Linked DNA regions of Homo sapiens: region 2 is linked to region 1. Evidence: fine-mapped expression QTL. A gene starts in region 1. The other region holds a variant in brackets. All regions are shown on one strand. Distances are from middle to middle.

Region 1 (10,797 bases):
TTTAAGCTTCTACCTTTTGGAGTGATTTATTCAGCAATAGAGAGAAAGCAGCTCTGTATGCACTGATATAAAATAATCTTCACCACATAATTTTTAAAAAGCAACAGAATGGTATGTATTCTATGCCCTTCTTGTTTAAAAAATATATAGGGAGAGTCTTATATATGCATACAATAGTGGTTTGCCAACCTAGGTGTGCTTAGAATCTCTAGTGGGGCTGGGAGCTGTGGCTCACACCTGTAATCCCAATACTTTGGGAGGACAAGGTGAGAGGATTGCTTGAGTCAGGAGTACAAGGCCAACCTGGGCAACATAGCAAGACTCCACCTCTACAAAAAATACAAAAATTAGCCAGGTGTGGTGGCACATGCTTGTAGTCCCAGTTACTTGGGAAGCTGAGGTGGAAAGATCACCTGAGCCTGGGGCAGTTGAGGCTGCAGTGAGCCATGATTGCACCACTGTACTCCAGCGTGGGCAACAGAGTGAGACCCTCTTTCAAAAAAAAAAAAAAAAAAAGGAAAAAGAAAAAAAGAATATCCTGGATAGCTTTTTTTATCTTTTATTTTTAAAATTTATTTTTATTTTAGATTCAGGGTGTACATGTGCTTGTTTGTTACATGGGTATATACATACTGGAGGGAATTGGGTTTCTAGTGTACCCAATACCCAAATACTCAAATAGTGAACATTGTACCCAACAGGTAATTTTTCTTTTTTTTTTTTTGAGACAGAGTTTCACTCTTTAGCCCAGGCTGGAGTAAAGTGGCATGATCTGGGCTCACTGTAACCTCCGCCCCTCGGGTTCAAGTGATTTTCCTGCCTCAGCCTTCCAAGTAGCTGGGATTACAGGTGGCCGCCACCACGCCTGGCTAATTTTTGTATTTTTAGTAGAGACGAGGTTTTACCATGTTGGCCAGGCTGGTCTCAAACTCTTGACATCAGGTGATCCACCCGTCTTGGCCTCCCAAAGTGCTGGGATTACAGGCGTGAGCCACCACGCCCAGCCCCGACAGGTAATTTTTCAACCCTCGTGCTCCTCTTTTGGAGTCTCCAGTATCTGTAATTTCCATCTTTATGATCTTATGTACCCATTGTTTAGTTCCCACTTATAAGTGAGAACATGTGTCTTTGGTTTTCTGTTTCTGAGTTGTTTTTCTTAGGATAATGGCCTTCGGCTCCACCCATATTGCTGCAAAGGACGTGATTTTGTTCTTTTTTATGGCTGCATGGCAGGCTTTTAAAAACTATCAATGTCTGAGTCAATACCAATAAAAGTATATCTGGTAGTAGGACCTAAACATTACCATTTTTTTAAAAGTTCCCCAAGAGACTCTTTTTTTTTTTTTGAGATGGAGTTTTGCTCTTGTTGCCCAGGCTGAAGTGCAATGTTGCAGTCTCGGCTCACTGCAACCTCCACCTCCTGGGTTCAAGTGATTCTCTTGCCTCAGCTTCCTGAGTAGCTGAGATTACAGGCACCCACTGCCACACCCGGCTAATTTTTTGTATTTTTAGTAAAGACAGCGTTTCACCATGTTGGCCAGGCTGGTCACGAACTCCTGACCTTGTGCAGAACTGAGAACTGCTGGTATAGAATAAACCTGGAAAGCAACACAGGAAAATGGGTGCTGTGTTTGCCTCTAGAAAGGTACACCAGGGTAAGAATAGGCTATGAGGAAGATTTACTTTTTACTGTAAACCCTTGACCTTTTTAATTTGTTTACTTTGTGTTACCTATTTCCAAGAACAATCAAGCTAACATTTTACAAAATGTTTTGCAAAAAAGTAAAATGGCCCAGGCATGGTGTCTCATGCCTGTAATCCCAATACTTTGGGAGGCCAAGGTAGGAGGATCACTTCAGGCCAGGAGTTTGAGGCCAGGAGTTTGAGATCAGGCTGGGCAACATAGGGAGACCCCCATTTCTACAAAAAAATAAAAAATTAGCTGGGTGTGGTGGCGTTCGGCTGTGGTTCTAGACACTCAGGAGGCTAAGGTGGGAGGATCACTTGAGTCCAGCAGTTCGAGGTTAGAGGGATCTATAATTGCGCCACTGCACTCCAGCCTGGGTGACAGAGCAAGACCCTGTCTCTTAAAAAAAAAAAAAAAAAAAAAAAAAAAGACACTTATAGCAGTGAAAATGAAGCCTGAATAGCACACTAGGAATAGTTCATTCAATAGTGGGAATCCAGTGGGAGTTCAAGGTCCAGTGGGGCCTCAGAGGAAGTGACTAGTCCCACCTGGGAAGAATGGGTGGTCAGGAATGCTGAGGAGGTAAATCCTGAAGTGGCCCCAACCTGAAAGGACTTATTTGCTGGCCCACCATGCCTCCAGTGCATACATCATTAGTTACGCTTTGGAAAAGCTGTTTGGGAAGAGTAATGGCTATAAAATGTGGCCCTCCGGCTGCCAGTCACCTCTGTGAACCCTGAGACCAACAGGAGGGAAAAAATGCCCAGGCTAGGAGGCGTAAAGAGATCCAAGTGCTGCTGATGTGATGTCATCGAGGAAAAGCTAATTATTGGCCAGCTTTCCAGTAGCAGGGATTTAGTTATTCACCCCCACCCCCCACCCCACCCCTCCACCCGCTGCCTTTGATTCCTGTTGTGGAGCACTGGAACATCGGTGAAGGGAAAGTAGCATGGCAGACCAAAGTCTGGCTCCATGGAGCTCCTTGGGATGTGTGTGTGGAGATCAGCGAGGGACCACAACAGTAAACAGCAGCCAGGGATGCTGAACTAGGAGGCAGAGAGGCACCAATGGCCAACCTAAAGCTTCTTTACTAGCACCTTCTCCTGGCCCCGGGCCATAGCTTGCATGTTCTTGGGTGCTGGCATGTCACAGCTCCCAGGTCAAAATCCACCTCCATCCCATCTCAAAATCTACTGCTTGTTAGCTGAATAAACTTGGTAAGTAATACTATTCTGAGCCCCAATTTCTTCGTCTGTGATGCAGATGAATATGTATGAAATAAAATCAAAGAATGATAGGCAGTATTAAATTTGACTGGTCTGGTTTTTTATTTTTGCTTTTGTTTTTATTTTTGAGATGGGGTCTCACTCTGTCACCCAGGCCGGAGTGCAGTGGCACGATCTCGGCTCACTGCAACCTCTGTCTACTGGGCTCAAGCTGTCCTCCCACCCCAGCCTCCTGAGTAGCTGGGACTACAGGCACATGCTACCATGCCTGGCTACTTTTTTCTATTTTTGGTAGAGTTGGAGTTTCACCATGTTGTCCAGGCTGGTCTCTAACTCCTGAGCTCAAGTGGCTTATAGGCATGAACCACCATGCCCGGCCAAATTTGGCCAATCTTTATTGGTGCCTGTTATATGCAAGGTCCTGGCTTCCCCACACAGACAAGAAAACAAACAAATAAATGAATAAATGTCAGCTGCAAGGATTGGAGTGGATTCTTGCATTTGCATAGCACAGTGAGTGTAGTGGTTAAGAGTGGGCTTTGCAGTCAGACGTGACTGTGTTAAAATCATGCTACTGTCACTTATTAACTGTGGGACGTTGGGCAGATCACCTAACATCTCTGAGCCTCATTTCCTCACCAAAAAAAAGAAGAATCATAATATGGCACCTCCTCTAAAGCTGTTGTGAGGATTAACTCATGTAATGAATGTGAAGAGTTCTGCGCAGGCACGTGATAAACATCCAGAAACTGTTTATTCTGCTTGTTGTGCAGTCTTTAGGGCTTAAACAAAGTACTTTACACTGATTGCCTTACCTGACCCTCTCCAGGACTCTGGGTGCTAGGGCATTAACTACCCTTTGAAAGGTGAAAACATTGATGCCCATTGAGGTGAAATGATTTGTCTTCAGCCACAAGGGGCAGCATCAGGAGTAGAACCCAAGTGTTTGTGTTCTGATTCCCAAGACAGCTTATGACGTTTTGGAAACTCTGAATCTGATGGGTGACAGAAACTTGGGGATCATCTCTAGATAAGAAAGGGAGTTCCTTGAATGACTGTGAAGACGTTCACCGGAAAGGGAAGGAAAGGAAGTTAATCATGCTTCCTTCACAGGCCCTCCTTCACCCCCATCTAGTGGGCACATGCAAGCTACAAACAAGGTGAGGAATGAACAAATTAATACATACTCAATAGTGGCCAGTTCGAGGCAGATAATTAAATCAAGATGACCTGAAAGGATGTGACTGGCTGTGGCTAGTTTACACAGGGTGGTCAGGGACGGCCTCGCCATGGAGAGGGCTGGTGTTTTGGCTGAGACCTGAGAGACCAGAAGAAATCTGATGGCCAGAACCAATGTTTAGGTCCCTAAAGAGAACAAGCGTGGCGAGCAAAGGGGGCCAGTATGGGTGGAGATCAGCGAGGGAGGGGGGCAGAGATGAGTGCCCGAAGCACACAGTACCTTGGCATAGGGAGGGTTTGATTTTACCTACAAATGCCATTAAACCCACTAAGGATTTTAACAAAAACTACAATTACATTTTAATTTACATTTTATGTTTTATAGAGACAAGGTTCGGCTATACTGCCCAGGTTGATCTCGAACCCCTGGGTTCAAGCGATCCTCCCTACTCGGTCCCCCAAAGTGCTGGGATTACAAGCGTGAGCCGCTGCGCCCGGCCTTTTAATTTACATTTTAGCCTTCCGGTTACTGGAATCTTTGATGGGGAATGAGTTATAGTGAGGCAAGAGCCTCTAACATTCTAGGAGCTCTTTTCCCGTTCGGGGCCTCAATTTCCCGTTCTACAAAGGCGGGTGGGAGGGAACGGGGTCCCAAGTAGTACTGGATAAAGAGGTGGCCGATCGCAAACGCTGAGCACTTCAAAACTCTGGGCAGAGCGCTTCCGCGCCTCTCCTGCTATTTCACCCTGGCCACAGGCTAGCCGCCGAGGCCGGTCATCCGCTCTCTCCGCGGAGGAGTCAACGCCACGGAAGCAGCGGCGGAACCTCTCTAAGAATCCTTCCAGCTTGTGCTCTTCTGTCCAGGGCAGCCAATCGCGAGGAGGAGAGTAGTCAGAGGGCGGCACCCTCCCCGGTCTGGGCCGAGTTATTGGCTGGTGGTAGCGTCGCTCGCCCGGCAGTACCACGTGACGGCCTCGGCCGCGGGCGTTTACACTGGCTCTGCCTCCGGCATCTCTTCGCCGGTGCGTCCTCGCCGCGCCCGTAGGTCCCGGCAGCCGGGCCCCGCCTCCTTCGGAGTCCGAGCGATGGGCGGGGAAAGGGACAGGCAGGTATAGCTCTGTCGGCGCCGCGGTGTCCACCTCAGTCAGGCCACGGTGGAAGACGCGTGCCGCGGCGCCTGGTTGCCTGCAGCGGCCCGGACCCGAGAGGTGAGAAGAGGGAAGCGGACCAGGGAAGAGGGAGGGAGCGGTGCTGGCCGCCAAGCGGTCAGCGGGCCCCTCCCAGAGTCATTCTGCCTGGGTCCCCGCGCGGTAGAATCCCAGATCAGGGGTCGCCGCCGTGGAGCGGGGCGTGCGTCAGGTTATTTCCCGGGTGGTCCGGGGCCGGGCGAGTGGCACTGCACCCTGGTGATCCGGGCCTGCCCGTCTGGCTGGCGGCTGCCCACCCGCCCTCCATCCCGCGTATCTCGCCGTATCTCGCCGGGTGCCACGCACTCCGCTGCTTTTCCAGTCCTCGTTGATCCGTCTCGAACCTAGATATCTGGAATAGGGATCGAGGAGATAGGAGCCACCACCACCTCGGACAGATGGGGAAACTGAGGCCGGCACAGGCGAGACGGCTTGGTTATCTTGGTTATTAAAAATCACACACCCGATTAAGTACAAAATCAGGACCTGTTCTTTCGGACTCACACACTAAGTTGGTATTATTTCACTGGATGGATGGAAACACTGAGAAGACAGAGAGGGCCCAGAGCCTTGCCTAAAAATACACAGCAAGTCTTTTGCAGAGCTAGGACTTGTACCCAGCTCTCCAAACTCATAGACTATCAGCCTGGGCTCCTTCCTTGCACAGATTGGGGATCACAGTGAGTTAGAAACATTCAGAACTTAAATTGCCTTCCGGCGCCCATTCTAGTTAACCTGTCTTTTCTCCTTGTCCCCAACAGTTCTTTATGTGAAATCTACAACTAATGTGATATGCAATACTAGATTAAGCAGAACTTTTTGTTTTTGAAAATTGAATCAATAAGAAATGGAGGGCCAAAGCTGTGGGAAAGGAATGGACCCTTTAAAATCAGGAATCTCAAGGCAGGATATAGCAAGGGACAGAGACTAATAGCTGTCGTTTATTGAGTAAATGCTATGTGCCAGGCACTGTGGTAGGTAGTTGTGTTAGCCTTACAAACCAGCAAGTTAGGTAATGTTACCCCATTTTACAGGTCAGAAATTGATGCTGAGTACAGTGAAGTTTTACAAAACCATTGCCATATGACTGCTGAGCAGTATAGCTGGGATCTGAACAGAGATCTGTTTGACTTCCAGAACACATCCAGTGATTCTCCAAGTGTGGTCCTAAGCTCACTCGTTCAGCATCATCTAGCGTGTGGAGTCCTGGATCTCATCCTTGGATTTGCAGGGATGGTCCTAAGAAGCTAACGGCTCTCTGTATTTGACAATTATTGTACTGTAATGTGCTGCCTCCTAGGGGAAGATCTAGAGGTGAACATACTCTGGGCTAGGGGTAATTTTTGAGGGAAAAAAATCACTTTTTTTTAATTTCTGATTTGACTTTTTTTTTTTTTGAGACCAGGTCTTACTCTGTCATCCGGGCTAGGAGTGCAGGGGCGCGATCTAGGCTCACTGCAGCATTGACCTCGTGGGTTCAAGCAAACCTTCCACCTCAGCTTCCTGAGTAGCTGGAACCACAGGTGCACGCTGCCATACCTGGCTAGTTTTTGTAGTTTTTGTAGAGATGGTGTTTCACCATGTTGCCCAGTCAGGTTTCAAACTCCTGAGCTCAAGCAATCCTCCTGCCTTGGCCTTCCAAAGTGCTGGGATTACAGGCATGAGCCACTGTGCCCTGCCCACACTTTTATTTTTTATTTTCCCCCATGATTGACAGAAGGATAATCACGCTTTTAGTGAATGTAAACCCCCAGGCAGATGCTTGCCAAGCTTAATTTCTTGACATAAGCTTGGTTTTGGCATGTGGGGGCGGAAGAGTGGGGTTGGAGAGTTAAGTGAGAATGGGGAAAGTAACTCCTTTTTCCTTATCATATAGCTGTTAAATTCTAATTCACTCAACAGATACTTGCTAAGCATTTATTAGGTGCAAGACATGTTCAAGACACTGAGAATACAGCTTTGAACAAAACAGAGCAAGTCAGTGCCCTCATGTGAAAGACAATTAACAATGTGTGGTATGGAATGGTGAGAAGAGCTATGGAGAAAAATAAAGGGCATAGGAGTGCAAGGCAGGGCTGGGCCCAGGAGGAAGACATGGAAATGGCAGCAATGGCAGTGGTGCTATATTTATTTATTTATTTATTTATTTATTTATTTATTTATTTTTTGAGATGGAGTTTCACTCTTGTTGCCCAGGCTGGAGTGCGGTGGCGCCATCTTGGCTCACTGCAATCTCTGCCTCCTGGGTTCAAGTGATTCTCCTTTGTCAGCCTCCCAAGTAGCTGGGATTACAGGCACATGCCACCACGCCTGGCTAATTTTTTTTTTTTTCTTTTTTTGAGACAGAGTCTCACTTTGTCTCCAGGCCGGAGTGCAGTGGCGTGATCTTGGCTCACTGCAACCTCTGCCTCCCAGGTTCAGGTGATTCTCCTGCCTCAGCCTCCTGAGTAGCTGGGACCACAGGCATGTGCCACCACGTCCGGCTAATCTTTTTATTTTTAGTAGAGACGGGGTTTCACCATGTTGGCCAGGATGGTCTCAATTTCATGACCTCGTGATCCGCCTGCCTCCGCCTCCCAAAGTACTGGGATTACAAGCGTGAGCCACCGCGCCTGGCCTAATTTTTTGTATTTTTTAGTAGAGAGGGGGTTTCACCATGTTGGCCAGGCTGGTCTCGAACTCCTGGCCTCAGGTGATCCACCTGCCTTGGCCCCCCAAAGTGCTAGGATTACAGGCATGAGCCCCTGCACCCGGCCTGCTATTTTGCATATTTGTTTAACTTTTTTTTTTTTTTTTTTTTTTTTGTGGAGACAAGATCTTGCTATGTTACCCAGGCTGGTCTCGAACTCCTGGCCTCAAAGTGATCTTCCTGCCTTGGCCTCTCAAAGCGCTGGGATTACAGACATGAACCACTGTGCCTGGCCTCTGTTTTATATATTGTATCTAGGAAGGGACCGATTTATATAAGGTGTCATTTGAGGTTGGGCAATGAGCAAAGGCCCCAAGGGCAAAGGCTGCTTGATATTTTCATGGACTGGTGATTGGAACACTAGTGCATAGGAGGAAGCAAGACAGTGGCAGTTTTAGGCTCATGCATAGAAGCTTATACCAATGTTTTTAGACCATATTTGGTAGGAGATAGGGAGCCAGTGCAGATTTTTGGGGAGCATATCCAAATGGTTGACCTCATCTTGCTAATGAATGCTTCTTTTGAAGAAGAGGCATAGTGCTTTAAAAATGTAGGTTCAGGCTGGGCTCTTCCTTTGCTCATGCCTATAATCCCAGCAATTTGGGAGGCCGTGGCAGGCAGATCACTTGAGCTCAGGAGTTCAAGACCAGCCTGGACAACACGGCGAAAACCTGTCTCTACAAAAAATACAAAAAAATAGCTGGGCATGGTGGCGTGCACTTGTGATCCCAGCTACTCAGGATCGCTTGAGCCCAGGAGGTGGAGGTTGCAGTGAGCTGAGATCATGCCACTGCACTCCAGCCTGGGTAACAGAGTGAGACCCCATCTCAAAAATAAAAATAAAAAATAGCCAGGCGTGGTGGCTCACGCCTGTAATCCTAGCACTTTAGGAGGCCGAGGCGGGCGGATCACGAGGTCAGGAGCTCGAGACCATCCTGGCTAACACGGTGAAACTCTGTCTCTACTAAAAATACAAAAAATTAGCCAGGTGTGGTGGCGGGCACCTGTAGTCCCAGCTACTTGGGAGGCTTAGGCAGGAGAATGGCATGAACCCAGGAGGAGGAGCTTGCAGTGAGCCAAGATTGTGCCACTGCACTCCAGCCTGGGCAACAGAGTGAGACTCTGTCTCAAAAATAAAAAATTAAAAAAAAAATGTAGGTTCAATATTAGAGGAAACTGAGTGACCATTATACAGGAACTGTGTACTATTTTTACAGCTTTTCTGCAAGTCCACAGTTATTTCAAAATAAAAATTTTTTTTAAATGTAGGTTCAATAAAGTGTTTAAGGCTGAACTATGCCTGCAACTTTCAAATAGTTGAAAAACAATAATGACAAAACCCATATAAGTATGGAGAGAGAGTGTGTTAACATCTTATGAACTGTAAAATTGCTAAATAGGTGAATTGTTAGTATGGAAGTGTTCCATGTATCATTCTTTCAACTTTTCTGAAGATTTAAAAACAGCTTCAAAATAAGCAATCAAGCGACAGTATACGTTTGAATCAGGCAGGCTTGTTCAAGTCATGATTCCCCTACTTACAAGCTGTGTGTGGCTGGGCGCGGTGGCTCACGCCTGTAATCCCAGCACTTTGGGAGGCCGAGGCAGGCGGATCACAAGGTCTGGAGATGAGACCATCCTGGCCAACATGGTGAAACCCTGTCTCTACTAAAAATACAAAAATTAGCCGGGCATGGTGGCAGGCGCCTGTAGTCCCAGCTACTCAGGTGGCTGAGGCAGGAGAATCGCTTGAACCTGGGAGATGGAGGTTGCAGTGAGCCGAGATCACACCACTGCATTTCAGCCTGGGCAACAGAGCAAGACTCTGTCTCAAAAAAAAAAAAAAAAAAAAAAAGCTGTGTGAAGTATTGGAAAATTATTTCTAAACTACATATTCTAGTCTAGTTTATTTTTATTAAAAATATATTTTTAATTATTTTTTTTTCTTACACTGTAGCTCTTACCAGTCTAGTCTGAGATTTTTCCATATAAGAGAGGAGACTTACTTTGGTTGTTGACTTGTTCACATTAATGCTGGGTTAATGTTAAGACTTCAGGTTTTCCACAAACTTGAGATCTTTAGGTTGTTTTTAGGTCGACTCTAGTTTTCCTGTAATTATCTGATGTATATACACTTACAGAGACTGGCATAGGCAATCTATTAGAGGAAAAAGGTTAGGAGTCAGGATACTTGGGTTCTGGATCCATCTCTGCCTTTAAGTAGCAAATGATTTCACTAATCTGAACCTTTATTTATTTATTTTATTTTATTTTTTGAGACAGAGTCTTGTCTGTCACCTAGGCTAGAGTGCAGTGGCGCAATCTCAACTCACTGCAACCTCTGTCTCCTGGGTTCAAGTGATTCTTGTGCCTCAGCCTCCCAAGTAGCAGGGATTATAGGCATGTGCTACCACGCCTGGCTAATTTTTGGATTTTTAGTAGAGATAGAATTTCACCATGTGGGCCAGGCTGGTCTTGGACTCCTGAGCTCAAGTGATCCGCATGCCTCGGCCTTCCGAAGTGCTGAGATTATAGTTGTAAACCACTGGTACCCAGCTGAACTCTTATTTCTTACCAAAAAATCATGGCGGTTGGATTTCTTGATCTCTGTCTAGCTCTAAAGTCCTGTAATTCAGGAAAACTACCACTTAATGATTTGATCATTTAGTTTGAACTGTCTCATGGTTGGGACAGAGGGTTATGACTTGCCTGGAGTCCAGGGCTCCTGACAACAGGTTACTTTTTCTACTGACCCTCACTGCCTATGGTTTTAGATTGTGTTATGTGTTAAAAGCAGTTACTTAAACACACATACACAAACATGCATAT
Region 2 (8,000 bases), 74 kb before region 1:
GACTCTGTCTCAAAACAAAAAACAAAACAAAACAAAAACCCCTTAATTGCTATAGTGCTTTCCGTTGTATCAAAAACTTAAAAGTTATATCAGTTTACCACCCAAATCTTAGATATTATGATTGAACTACTTCAAATAACATATTTTTTTATTCAGATAAATAAAACAATAATACACTGTCTTGCATTTTTAGTGCTAAAATAAAGATTAAACATGTGGCTTGTGCAATTGGAATTTGGCATAACTTCATTTTTTTCATATGTTGAAGGCCTCCAAAATGAAATAGTCCCAAGGCTTGTTGAGGGCAGCAAGAGCTGTCAGTGCATCTCGCCTCATGATCCTAAGCCTAAGAGGATCAGGTTTTAACCCCATCCCAACTCACATAACGATTTCCTTCCGTGTCTGCTCCAGCATCATGTACTGTGTCCACTCCTGTTCACTCTCATATGTCTTAGACTGATCCACGATCTTTTGGAACATCGTCCTCTTCCTACAAAACATATCAGTCTAGTAAAGGGAGCAAGTCTTAGAATAAGGCAACACCTGAGCTGCTAACATTGGCTGATTCAGATGGAGCCTTATTAAATCAACAAAATTCACAAAACAAGGTTGAAAGAGCCAAGGCCCAGGAGTGAAGACCTAGGTTTAACCTAAGTCTCTGCCACTGATTTGTTATCTACTCTTAGCAAATCTCTTGTCCTGAATCTCAGTGTTCCCATCTGTACAGCGGGGGTAATGATATCTAACTCACAGGCTTGTAGCAAGAATCAATGTGTCCATAACACACGTGTTGTGCCTGACACATAGTATATGCTAAATTAATTGGAACTATGATGTTTGTTATTATTATTGTTATTATATTGTTGCTGGGTGCAGTGGCTCATGCCTGTAATCCCAATACTTTGGGAGGCTGAGGCAGAAGGATGGCTTGAGACCAGGAGTTTTAGATCAGCCTGGGTAACATAGTGAGAACCCATCTTTACAGCAAATTAAAAAATTATCCAGGAGTGGTGGTGTTCCTGTAGTCCCAGCCACTCAGGAGGCTGAGGTGGGAGGATCCCTTGAGCCCAGGAAGCAGTGAGCTGTGATGGTGCCACCGCACTCTAGCCTGGGCAACAGAGTGAGATCCTGTCTCAAAAAAGAAAAAAAAAAAATATATATATATATATACACACACACATATATATGTGTAGATATATGTGTATATATATGTGTATATATATGTATATATGTGTATATATGTGTATATATGTATATATGTGTATATATGTATATATGTGTATATATGTATATATATGTGTGTATATATGTGTATATATGTATATATGTGTGTATATATATGTGTATATATGTATATATATGTGTGTATATATATATATGCATACATATAATCATTGTTGCTTTTACTATTAGAATGAGAAGATATACCAACTTGAAATACAGGGCGAGGTCTGTGGCAATGATTGCAATGTCCATCATGTGGATGGCATGCTCATGCTGTCGACGATTGAGGTTTTGAAAGATATTCAGGCTCTAAAGAAAAAAAGAGAAGCGAGATGGGAGAGAATTGATGCTGGCAGTAAAGTCACCCACCTACCAATGGCCACCCCAGATGATGGCAGAGGCAGCCCAGGCCAATGGGAAGAATGCTCCCTGGGCACACTCAGGCTCCTTGTGAAATAGAGCCTCTGATCCAGGCCCCGCGGCCTGTAGACCCTTGGCCCTCATCCTACCTCGTCTCTGAGCAGTGTTTTGCCAAACTCCAAGTGGTGTCTTTCCAAGATAGAGGACCCATGGAGCTTGGCCAGTGGGTTCTGGGATCTGAATGAGAAAGAGAGAGAATCAATATGGAGTGGACAATAGAAAATTAGGACTAAACATCAAGTCTCCTGACTCAGTCTTCAGCCTTCTCCACAAGTGATTCCGAGTTACTTTTGGGTCGTGAACTCATTAGAGAATCTACTAAATAGCATGGACCCCTTCCCCAGAGAAAGCCACAAACACACACAATGCCATAAGGGATTTTAGGGACATTAGCACTGGGCCATGCTTCAAGATCATCTAGCCCTGATTCTTCACATCCAAGTCTTGAAGGAAACAACTGAATTTCCGCAAGCCGTGTATTTATTCATTTCTGCATTCAATAATTATTTGTTGAGCACTTGCTATGTGCCACACACTGTGCTAAGTATTTAGATTCTCAAAATGTAAAATGTAAACCCAATCTCTAGCCCCAGAGCAGCATGAAAGTATTGAGAAGACTCAGCAGCATGAATTCAGAGCTTGTTAATGACTTACAGGCCATCGGCCCTGAGCGGAGACTCAGTTTTCTCATCTGTAAGTAGGGATAACATTAGCCCCTGCTCTGCCCAGCCCACTGGGTGGTTGTGAGGATCCAATGAGATCATGGTTCAAGGACTATGCTTTATGGGCTGTCTGAAATATAAGCTCTGTAAGGACAGGAGCTGTTTTGCTCATCAGAGCACCTTTTTTGCCTGGCATAGAGCCTACCACACTATATTAGAAGCACTGTAAATACGAGATGAGTGAATGAACCATTACTGGTTATTAACATCTTGGCTCAAATTAGTGCAGCAGGTAGGACAAGGAAGGAGACAAGTACAGGAGTTTAATGCATTCATTTTCTATGGCTGCTATAACAAACTGCCACAAACTTAATGGCTTAAAGCAATAAAATTTATTATTTTACAGCTCTGTATGGAGTCTGAAATGGGTCCTTAGGGCTGCTTTCCTTCTGGAAGCTCCAGAGGAGAATCCGTTTCCTTGCTCTTTTGAGCTTCTAGAGGCCACCTGCATTCCTTGCTTGTAGGCCATGCCTCCATCTTCAAAGCCAGCAGGGTAGCATCTTCTTTCCTCTCTGACCTCTTGCTTCCCTCTTATAAGGACCATTGGGACTACATGGGGCCCACTCGAATGAATAATCCCTGTATCTCAAGATCCTCGACTTAATCACATCTGCACAGTCCCTTTTGTATGTAAGGCAACATATTCCCCAGCTCAGGGATTTGAGATCTGGACATCTTTGTGGTGGTCATTATTCTGCCTGCTACAGGAGGAGACCCGGATCCCAAGGGCAGAAGGCGGTGGGAAGCTGTGGACCACAAGACTTCCCTGTTGGCCAGTGAGTCTGCCTGGGAGCCACACAGAGCTGGATAATGAATCCGGAGGGTTGGGTGTGGGGAGGGAGGCTGACTCACTTCATCTGGTAGAGGTTATTGGTGCCTCTGTGGTCAATGTCATGGCAGAAAGCAGCAGTGACCATGGCCAAGGCCTCTAGGTCCGTGAAGTAGCGCTTCAGCTTTCCCGTCTGGAAGGGCAATCAGAGTGCAAATCATTCCTTTTGTGTAGGGGCTGGAAGCAGGGCTGAAAAGGCGGGTGTAAGGAGGAGGGCCCAGAACTAAAAAACTCATGGGTCTGATCTTGGCTGTATCCTGGCTCCAGAGGCTGACCAGAGGACTGCCCAGGGCTGAGGGGTTTTTTGGATATGGGACTTTCAGTGCTAGAATGGGGAAAGTCCCAGGTAAATGGGAACAACTGGTCACCCTATTTCTGAGTTGACCTTAGCTGGTCTCATCTCCCTCTGAACCTCGGTAGCCCAATCTCCATAATGAGGGTCGAGCATATTGGATCAGATGAATTTTGAGAAACTTGTAGAAGTCAGGTTTTAGGATTTGGAGAGTTTCTGAACATGGCCAGGCTGGTAAAGCAAATCTTCCAAACGTGGTCTACTGGTTTAAGCACAGCCTGGAGGAATCCTTCCCTGGGATTTTGCCAGACACTTAACTCCTTGTTGATGCTGGGTGTTGAAACCAAATGTGGGAAAGTGCTCTGGAGAGCTGATGCTGACTTTATGAAAGCAATCACTCTAAGTGGTGTTCCTGTCACCCTTTAAGGTAGCCTGGTCAGAATTCCTGCTTCCGGGCCCTAGCACCTACTCTGGCCTGACCATTTCAGCCAAGGGGGAAGGGATGATGTTGAGGAAGGGCAGGGATTTGCATCATGATCTGGATGGGGAAATAACTTGAAATAAAACATAAAAGTCTCCGAACCCTCTCAGTGAAAAATACGAACACAAATACACAAAGATAAGTCCATCCAAGGATATTGTGGCACTGTTTGTAATAGTGAAAGATTGAAAAGACTTCCAAGTCCAACAATAGAACACTATGCAGCCACAAAATTGTATCATGGATAAGCCTCAAAAATGTTATGTTAAGTGAAATATGCCAGACACGAAAGGACGAATACTGTATGATTTCACCTCACTGTATATGAGGTGCATAGAATAGTCAAGATGAAAGAAACAAAAAATAAGACAGGGCCAGGCATGGCAGGTCACACATGGCAGCACTTTGGGAGGCCAAGGTAGGAGGACCACTTGAGCCTAAGAATTCAAGATCAGCTTAGGCAACACAGCCAGACCCTGTCTCTACAAAACTAAAAATTTATGTGGACATGGTGGCACATACCTGTGGTCTCGGCTACCTGGTGTTAGTCCCAACTGCACCATTTTGTAAGCTCCCCATTATTTTGCAGACCTTGGTCAAAGTGAAACATTTCATGGGGGTTTGGGTCGGGAGAAACAGCCTTCCTAACCACCTGACCACAAGGCAGACAAAGGCCCAACTAAAGAAACATTCCTATCATATCTTGCTGGGCAAAAGTCCAAGAAACACCACAATGGCATCCCACCGAGACAAAAGCAAAACCGCCTCATCATGAGAACATCTTATCAATAGCCTGCCAGGCAACAAGCCATACTGCCCAGACCCCTCCCGCCCATACCTATAAGTACCACCAGCCTGTAAGCAGCGGTGGGCTCTGGCATTAGGCTGGTTCCTACTTCTGTAGATTTTATGCTGGGCGTAAAGCCTGCATTTGCTCTTGAGCCGCCCTCTTTCTGTGTGTGTGTGTGTGTGTGTCTTTCTTTAACCCTCGCCTTCCCTTCAAAACCTAACATGTGGGAGG[G/C]TGAGGTGGGAGGATCGCTTGAGCCCAGGAGGTCAAGGCTGCAGTGAGCCGTGTGTTCTCAGCACTGCACTCCAGCCTGTGTGACAGAGCAAGATCATATCTCAAAAGTAAAAAAAGATCTAAGAGGATAGAGATTAAATGTTGCCTCCTCTACAATTTCTTATTACCAAGAGACTAAAAATATTTGGGACTGTTACTAAAAATTTTCTGTGCCACAGTGACAGATTGTACTATGGGGAACTACATGCTTCTAGAAATTATTATTCACAGACGATTGATCTACAGATTGCTGGTGTGACAGACAGTTCACAATTTTTGCTTGCTTCCTAGTGTTCACTGGAAATTAAGGTCACTAAGGGTTAAGAATTCTAATTAATATAAGGATATATTAACATATATTAATATATATTTCTTTATTTAGAATTCTTAACACATAATTAATATGTTATTTATAATATATTAATAACTAATAATTAATATATTATTAATAAAATAATAAGGGAAACAATTCTATAAGCAATTATACAAGAGGGCAAAAACTGCTTTTGGTAAGAAAAAGCTATAAGATATGAGGATGTTTTATTTTGTTAAGGGTGAAAAGAGAAACTTTTGTCCTAATGTAGGATAACTGGTTACTCCAAAATGAGAAGAGGAAAAAGTATAGGAAAAAGTTGAATGGATAAGAAAGTTGTAGAAGGCTTGTGGAAGATAAATCTTGTGAAAGTAATTGTATGTGTGATGAAGCTGGCTAAGATTGGAAGAAAATGGCTGGGTGCGGTGGCTCACGCCTGTAATCCCAGCACTTTGGGAGGCCGAGGCGGGCGGATCACGAGGTCAGGAGATCGAGACCATCCTGGCTAACACAGTGAAACCCCGTCTCTACTAAAAATACAAAAAATTAGCCAGGCATGGTGGCGGGCGCCTGTAGTCCCAGCTACTCGGGAGGCTGAGGCAGGAGAATGGCGTGAACCCGGGAGGCAGAGCTTGCAATGAGCTGAGATGTGCCACTGCACTCCAGCCTGGGCGACAGAGTGAGACTCTGTCTCAAAAAAAAAAAAAAAAAGATCAGAAGAAAATTGTTTGAAGTTTTTCTAAAATTTTGAAATTAATGCTATCTTGAACATTGATGTCAAAAGTACACTGATGCAAAACTAGAACTTGGACCTCTCTTTTAAAACAACAAATTTTCTTTGAGTATTGGTCTGCTGTTAACAGGAAATTTATCTTTTAGGTAATTGACCTAGGAAACAAAGATTCTGTGCTTTACCAAATTAATTTCCTGTACTCCAGGTTGCCTTTATTAGGTTTTTGATCACTTAAGAAAACTGTTTTCTTTATTAAAAGAGCTAAGGTCTTTCTATAAGTATTTAACTTTCTGTATTTTTATTTATTTATTTATTATTTATCTTATTTTATTTTTGTTTTGAGACAGAGTCTCGCTCTGTCACCCAGGCTAGAGTGCACTGGTGCAATCAAAACTCACTGCGGTTTGGACCTCCTGGGCTCAAGCAATCCTCCCATCTCAGCCTCCTGAGTAGCTGGGACTACTGGCGCATGCCACCACACTAGGCTAAATTATCTTATTTTGGGCTGGATGCAGTGGCTCATGCCTGTAATCCCAGCACTCTGGGAGGCTGAGGCAAGCGGATAACTTGAGGTCAGGAGTTCGAGATCAGCCTCGGCAACATGGTGAAATATCGTCTCTACTAAAAGTACAAAAAGTTAGCTTGGCCCGGTGGCACGCACCTGTAATCCCAGTTACTGGGGAGGCTGAGACAGGAGAATCGCTTGAACCCAGGAAGCAGAGGTTGCAGTGAGCTGAGATCATGCCACTGCACTCCAGCCTGGGTGACAGAACAAGACTCTGTCTCAAAAAAAAAAAAAAAATTCAAGCATTTAGAAACTTCCCAAAGTCATATTCATTTTTTTTTTTTTTTTGAGACAGAGTCTTGCTTTGTTGTCCAGGCTGGAGTGCAGTGGCACGATCTCAACTCACTGCAACCTCTGCCTCCCAGATTCAAGTGATTCTCCTGCCTCACCCTCCTGAGTAGCCGGGATTACAGACACACCACCACACTAGGCTAATTTTTAAAATATTTTTGGTAGAGATGGGGTTTCACCATGTTGGGCAGGCTAGTCTTGAACTCCTGACCTCAAATGATCCACCTACCTCAGTCTCCCAAAGTGCTGAGATTACAGGCATGAGCCACTGCGTCTGGCCCCAAAATCATATTCTAAATTAAGTATTTTTCTTGACTGCAAATTAACTTTGGAATTTTTCAGATGAACCCTTAGAACATCTCAAAAAGATATCTCTTCTTGTAAAAAGAGAGACATTAAACTAATTAGGCTTATTTTATATATTAAATTATATGGGAAGCATTGTCAAATACAATTAATGCTAAATCTTCAAGTTGTATTCTAAAGATGTGTTATTAATATGTGTTTCAGAAACTGTATAAAATTCATAGAAATCTAGTATTCCTGGTATAACACTATCAGTCACAATTTTAGTTATTGTCTTAAAATGTTTGCAACGGAAATAACCAAATTTCCTTGTCAATTGTGTCATTATTGTAATGAACTCTCATGAGATCTTTAACCATGACCATGTAAAGTCTTGTCATCCACAGGTGGTTTTTCACTCTGCTACTTTCCTGAGCAACTCTAAGCCTAAAGTGTTTCTTCTTCATAAGATCATACCATTGGACTGGGGAAGAATTTCCAGAATTCCAGTGAAGAAACTGGTTCATAAAACTGCTAACTCAGTATTAAGCAGAATAAAAAATAATTGAAAATTAAAACAAATGATTTGGCAGATTTTTATGCTAAGTCAGCCAGTACTGAAATTGGTGAGATATACAATTTTAATGAACTCCAAACATTGATCCAAGTCAAGTTACCTATGATAACCTATTTAATAAACAGTGCTATGCACCTGAATTGGAGAAATGAAATTGGTATTTAAAAGGATGTAAATCCAATGTTAAGTGTGGACTCATAAGGAGTCC

Alleles and levels. Positions count from the first base shown, and alleles are read on the strand shown. Sizes are in standard deviations (SD) of each study's normalised expression.
For the expression in adrenal gland of the gene that starts at base 5,079 in region 1, allele G in region 2 goes with a higher level than allele C (small effect, 0.38 SD a copy in GTEx).

The links. PIP is the estimated chance that this variant, and not a neighbour inherited with it, causes the effect.
Region 2: its variant is fine-mapped to the expression of SLC26A2 in adrenal gland (GTEx, PIP 0.94).

The regions. Positions count from the first base shown.
Region 1 is chr5:149,955,680-149,966,476 of GRCh38, forward strand. It overlaps SLC26A2 (solute carrier family 26 member 2), which reads left to right and starts at 5,079. Exons shown (of 3, transcript NM_000112.4): 1 at 5,079-5,300. RefSeq lists enhancers at 3,495-4,098, 3,895-3,974 and a silencer at 5,015-5,134.
Region 2 is chr5:149,883,047-149,891,046 of GRCh38, forward strand. PDE6A (phosphodiesterase 6A) reads right to left here. Exons shown (of 22, transcript NM_000440.3): 14 at 3,219-3,328; 15 at 1,734-1,821; 16 at 1,433-1,533; 17 at 383-490. Among named protein-coding and RNA genes, the nearest start is that of PDE6A, 58 kb to the right of the region's middle. The variant G/C (reference allele first, on the strand shown) is at 4,990.